2 separate regions of the Homo sapiens genome follow, and region 2 is linked to region 1. Evidence: fine-mapped expression QTL. A gene starts in region 1. The other region holds a variant in brackets. All regions are shown on one strand. Distances are from middle to middle.

Region 1 (2,914 bases):
TTAAATAATATTTAAAACAGATCCCGGCAGCCAGAGTTACAGAGTGAGTTCTATTTTTAAGAAAAGAGTTAGAGTTCAATTTGCATTCATTATGCTGGCTATTTTAAATAATTTTATTCCATGTGTATGCAGAACCCTCCCCTCCATTGACAAGATGCCACTTCAAGTAAGATCTAAGAGAGATATTGCTGTACGTGTCTCACAATTTTGAATAAAACAGTACCAGCAATCTCCCTCTTTCTCCATAGCCCTAAATTTATTATTAAGTAAATTTAGCAATAGCTCAATCACTGGAGCCCAAGACAGTATGTGATGCACTAAAGCACTTATATGTTTATTATCTTTTGCAAGCAACATGGGTAGTGGTGTCTATTATTGCCTCCTGCAAATCTGTAGCAATGTGATGCAAAACGGCATTTTTAAAGAAATTCTCTTTTGGAATGCAAATGATTCCTCCTGCAATTTTGAATATTTTAGCCAGCATGTACCATACAGTAGTTCTGGAATCACTGGCATCTCTCATGCTGTCAAAACTGAGTCAAATGCATTGTAATCCTGGAGAACGATAACCTTAAACAGCAATGCAACGTTAAAATGCATCCTAAAAAAAAATCCCTATAATTGCGATGAACATTAGAGAGAAACCGGCAGTCCTTCTGCAGGGAAATAACAGTCTGCTCTAGCAATCTTTCCCCTCCCCCCCTGAAACTCATGCAACTAATGATGACCTCCCGAAGTGCCGAATTTAAATGTTCCAGCATTCATCTGAGGATGAAGGAGGAAAAAAAAATACATAGAAAACCATGAAACAAGTTGTAAACTGCACAAACGCAAGGAGAGAAAGAGAACTGCAGCTGATTCAGGAGCGATTGCAGAATGAGGAGCAACAGAAAGGAAACAAGAAAGAAAGAAAAGGGGAAAAAAGCCTTAAGCATTAAAGAGTAAGAAGTGAAAAACATTTACCAGCAGCTCGGTCAGTAGCTTCGCTCCCTGACACCATCTACATAGATAACTTAGCCTAGAGTCTTCGGTCCCAGCTCGCTTTGGAGCAAAATTCCTTCACTTCGAGGGGGCAACACACACCCTCAAGAAAGAGAGAGAGAGGGAAAGAAGGGGAAAAAAAATAATCCCAAAGACCAAGACAGGCTTTCCCCCTCCTCCCTCTTACCCGCCCCCCGGACTCCCCAAACGGTGCTCGCTTCTGCACAGTTCTGCCTGCTGTGCCGCTGAGCTCGATGTTGCCGCGGCGGCTGCTGCTGCTGCTGCTGCTGCTGCTGCTGCTGCTGCTGCTGGTGGTGGTGCTGCTGCTGCTACTTCGGAAACGATTAGGAGGAGGACGCCCAAGCACGACCTGAGCCTGCGAGCCACCCAGGACCAATGTGCAACCTGCTCTGGAATCAAACCCATAACACACGCACGCACACCCAGTGACTCCTGCACGCGAGCTCTCGCGCGCACACACGCGCTCGCCCGCGCGCCGCACAACACACGCGCGCGCGCGCACACACAAACACACACACACACACACACACACACACACACACACAGAGCGCCGTGCGCCGCCCGCTAGCCCTCGCGGTCCCTGAATGGGGAGTGCGAGCCAATCCCTGGGCCCCGAGAGCGCGCACCGGCCCAGGCCGCCGGGGTTGGGTGGTGGCGCTGGGGCTGCAGCTGCTGTGGCTGCGGGGTACGCAGCCAGGGAGGGGCTCACGGCTGAGAAAGAGGGGCGCTAGGGACACGTGCACCCCTTTGTCTGCAGAGAGAACCCCAGCTGGGCGTTTCCAAGACCAGGAACTGAGCGCGCGAACCCCGGGCGGCTCAGAGTTCAGTTCGGCTCTAGGGTTAGCCTGAGGAGGCTTGGATCCCTAGCTGCACGCACCGAGGGATCCGCTCGGCACCCGATGCACCACATCTATGCACCACAGCTACACCCAGGTCTCTGCAAACAGGAGAGCACAGCAAGCCTTCGAGTCCTGCGGACGACCCGAGCCTGCCCTGGCTCTCGCGAGCATGTCCAGTGCTTGGCTGCACCCAGACCGCTTCTTCCAGGGTTAGGAACGCAGAGCAGGGCAGAGCCGAGCTCTGCAGCTTCCAGAGAGAAGCAAAGGTTCCAGAGTCTTCAGCCGCTGCTCACCTGCCTCATCTAGGCTGCCCGGTGGCTCTGAACCTGCACCCAAGGACGTAGTGATGGGGAAGCTAGATTTCCAGACGTCAGAGAGGAGTTACTTCTCTTTTTTTCATATAGGGAATCTTTGAAAAGAAACAATTCTTAGCCCAGGAAAGGCTGTTTCAGTTTACAGGGTAATTAACAGAAAATCCAGCAGGGCCTGGTGGTTTTAATAGTAACAGCTGAACAAGTATTGCTTGTTCAGCTCTGTGCAGGCTCTGTGGAATGTGTTGCCTATGAATTATCTGATTTTAACCTGTTCAGACACTGTATGATCCACCCTAGGAGGAAACCGAGGCCCCAGAATGTTACCAACTGCTAGTATATCATACCCAATACATCAAGAATCTAAACCCTGCAGTCTGGCCCTCAGTCACTGGAGACAGGATGAGGAGTGTGGATGAACGCTAGGCAAGTACAGCAAGGTAAAGGCCTGGTGGGTGTTTGGGTGATAACATCCTCTGGCCTTCAAGCTGTACCTGGCTTGTTGTCTTCAATAACCTACAAACCTTGAAAAACTGCATGCCTGAAATTTGCCAATGTCTTCATAGTACTAATATTAATAATACTTATCTCTTGATTACATACTCTTGTTCATCCTTTAATTAGGTGCCATCTTAATCTTTAAAGGAACTCTGTAAAGAAACTATCCTACCCCCCTTCTACATATGAGGAGGCTGAGACTGAGATGTGGTGTCACTTCCCTCAAGGGACAGGCCCTGAATGAAGACACTGTTTGTCCTATTG
Region 2 (2,914 bases), 400 kb before region 1:
TGCTTAATTTGCCAAAAACGTAAACCTCTAAAGTCTCATACGAGTCCATTTGCAGAACATCAATCCTTTCACTTCTAGCTTTCATATCATGCCATGTGACAATGTGATATTCTTACATTTTGCCTCTGGTTGTATGTTATTATCAGCTGTGTTTTAGCATCATAGTAATCATATATTAAGACTCCCATGAATAAACTTTTTAAAAATAAGTTTTCTCTATAGCTTCCAATACCTGGACTTTGAGGGAATTGAATTAGAAAAATGTAAAGGAGATCATTCTTTCATTTAGGAATGGAAAACACAGAACCTATGATATTTTGTGTCTGTGTCCTTCGTTTTTTTAAATCCATGATAACTCATTTCATACTCTTCTTTATAATGGTATTCTTTTAAATGTACAGGTATATAAAATAAAGCCTAAAAACACAAATTGAAATCAATGTCATCCAAATGGCTTAAAACTTTGTTCTGGGTTTTTTTTTTTTTTGGTATGTTTTTAAATTTTGTTTTGTTTTTAAGAAATTGAGACAATTTTCTTTAGGTTCCATGGAAATTGGCTTCATAAAATGTGGCTGGAAAAGAAATCATCCCATATCAACATCAAGCACAGTCAAATATGAATGTATGCTTTTTGTAGCTACCTCTTTCACTATTCTTACCACTGACTTTTCACTTCCTTAACAGCAAAATTATGGGCCTTTGGCTAGGTCTGGAGCTCTTAGTAAGTTTTTATGTCTGTTCCAGGCATTCTCTGTGATTTTACGTGAGGGATTAGGGAGAAGAAAGGAGTAGAGTGGGTTATAAAATACAAAGTTAATTTGAGCATGTAAGAGTAATAGAGTGGGAGTAGAAATAGAATTCCACTCGCATGTTTAGTTTGTGTTTACTTAAGAAACGCTCCAATGCTAGATTTATTGAGAGGCCGCTTTCTGGAGAGAAAGGAGAAAAATTTAAGTAACTCACCTTAAATGACAAATGAATGCAACTTGGTTGGCAGTAACAATCTAAGGACATTGTCCCCGGTGCTAAGGAAAATCCTTCCTTCCCTCAGGCTTCATTCCTCATGTCTCAGTTAACAAGCAGTGAGTACCTGGGTGTGTTGGAACTCTGCCGAGGAGACAGATACGCTACAGACCTTTTGCCAAAAGGACTCAATCTAATAGAATCTGTGTTTCACAAATACGCTTTACATAAATCCATTACGTGCCCAGAGCCAGCTTGTTTTATAAATGCATTTTGTGAAATGCAATGGAATTAACCCAACATTTATATCTCAACCTCAAAGTACATTATGAGGATTGTAAATTTCCCAATTACAACAGATGAAAATGAACATTGTACTTATTTACTTTGGGTGGACATGGAGAGGGGAGGGGAAGAATAATTTTCTTAAA[T/G]GTTTAACCAACACCAGATTTCACTTACTGCCATTTCTAGCTTCCTATTTCATACCAACTTTATTTTCTTTGTTTTTTGTTTTTTTGTTTTTTCCCTTTCTGGATTTCCAATAAAATAACTGAAACTAGAATTCTGCTGGAAGGAAAAAAAAAAAAAAAAGGAAATTTTTAAGTCCCAAGGTGAAGAAATCGCCTAAGGGAGTCAAGAGAACATAGACAAGATTTTTTAGTTTGTGCTGCTTTGCATCTTTAAGGAGGCAATTAGTTATTCTTCTGTATTACTGACTACCCCTTTTTCTCCATAACTCATATAATACAAATGGCCTTAGAGAGGACATATTTTAAGTGGGACATTTATTATTGAACAAAAGTATGGACTCTAATTTAAAGTTACTAGGAAAGCCCTTTCAAATTTCACAGCAGCAAAAACTTGGCCGGGCTGTTCTCAACTCTCATTGCCATTTCTAGCCAAATCATTATTGACTTCAAGATAGGATTAAAGAACCTGAAAAGATAACATGAATCTGAGAGTTTTATATATTTGAAGCAACCCAATCCAAGCCAGCACAATGTTAATGCAGAGGCTAAATCAATGAGTGTAGGATGAAGCACTATGGTGTCTACACTACCAAAAAAAAAAAAAAAAGAAGAAGAAAGAAAAGAAAGACAGGTTCATCTGTTTGATGGGACTGTCAAGTTATCCAATGGGTCATTTTTGTCACAGCAGCATGTAGGAAGCACAATCAACATTGATCTAGGGAGAACTGTTGGCAAAATTAAAGATTTTACTATATGACTTTGCAGACTGAATATACACTTCATATTACCAAAAAGGAAGTTGGTTTCTGAGATCTGTCTTCACTCATTAACTATGCTTAGCAAAATCACAACTGGAATTTTTTAAGGGAGATTTTTAAGTAAACACGGTGAAAAATCCATTTATCCCAAAATCCCACCAAGAAATGAAATTAAAACATATGGAACCCCACAGAAAAGATTCATTTTCTGACCATGTATCTTTAAAACCTAAAATCAAATTGGAGAGCTTCTTTCTCAAAGTATAGATTCCTGTTACTTCCTCTTCAAGAAAGGCATACCTAAAAGGTTATTGATTTGGTTCTGAAGGACACAGTGTTTATTATGGAGGAAGCCATCACTGGGTACAAGTGTGAGAAATTAATGATGGCTTTGTAAGTGTCCATGCCGTGGTGTGGAACCAGTGGGGCAACTGTCAATCTATATGATAATACATTCCCAAACTTCATAAAATCAGTGATGTGAAAAAGCATTGATTTCTTTGTGAGCTAAACAGAATTTGTCAGAGAGAAAGAGCAAGAAGTTTACTGAAGTTAACACCTCTGCCTGCAGAGTTGCTCACACTTCAATTTGTATTTGCTTAAAGAGTTTATGATGTGATGTGTAAAATTTCTTATTTTTATTTCTGGCCAAGAATGAGAACAGAAGATACATTATGTACCTCTTTTGAATATGTAAAATATTGAAAAAATGTTTTAAAAAGA

Which allele goes with the higher level. Positions count from the first base shown, and alleles are read on the strand shown. Sizes are in standard deviations (SD) of each study's normalised expression.
For the expression in liver of the gene that starts at base 1,458 in region 1, T is the high allele of the variant in region 2 and G is the other (large effect, 0.87 SD a copy in GTEx).

The links. PIP is the estimated chance that this variant, and not a neighbour inherited with it, causes the effect.
Region 2: its variant is fine-mapped to the expression of TENM2 in liver (GTEx, PIP above 0.99).

Annotation. Positions count from the first base shown.
Region 1 is chr5:166,977,573-166,980,486 of GRCh38, reverse strand. TENM2 (teneurin transmembrane protein 2) reads right to left here and starts at 1,458. Exons shown (of 31, transcript NM_001395460.1): 1 at 964-1,458. RefSeq lists enhancers at 1,400-1,899, 1,900-2,401.
Region 2 is chr5:167,377,505-167,380,418 of GRCh38, reverse strand. The region is part of intron 4 of TENM2 (teneurin transmembrane protein 2); the gene reads right to left. Among named protein-coding and RNA genes, the nearest start is that of TENM2-AS2, 76 kb to the right of the region's middle. The variant T/G (reference allele first, on the strand shown) is at 1,395.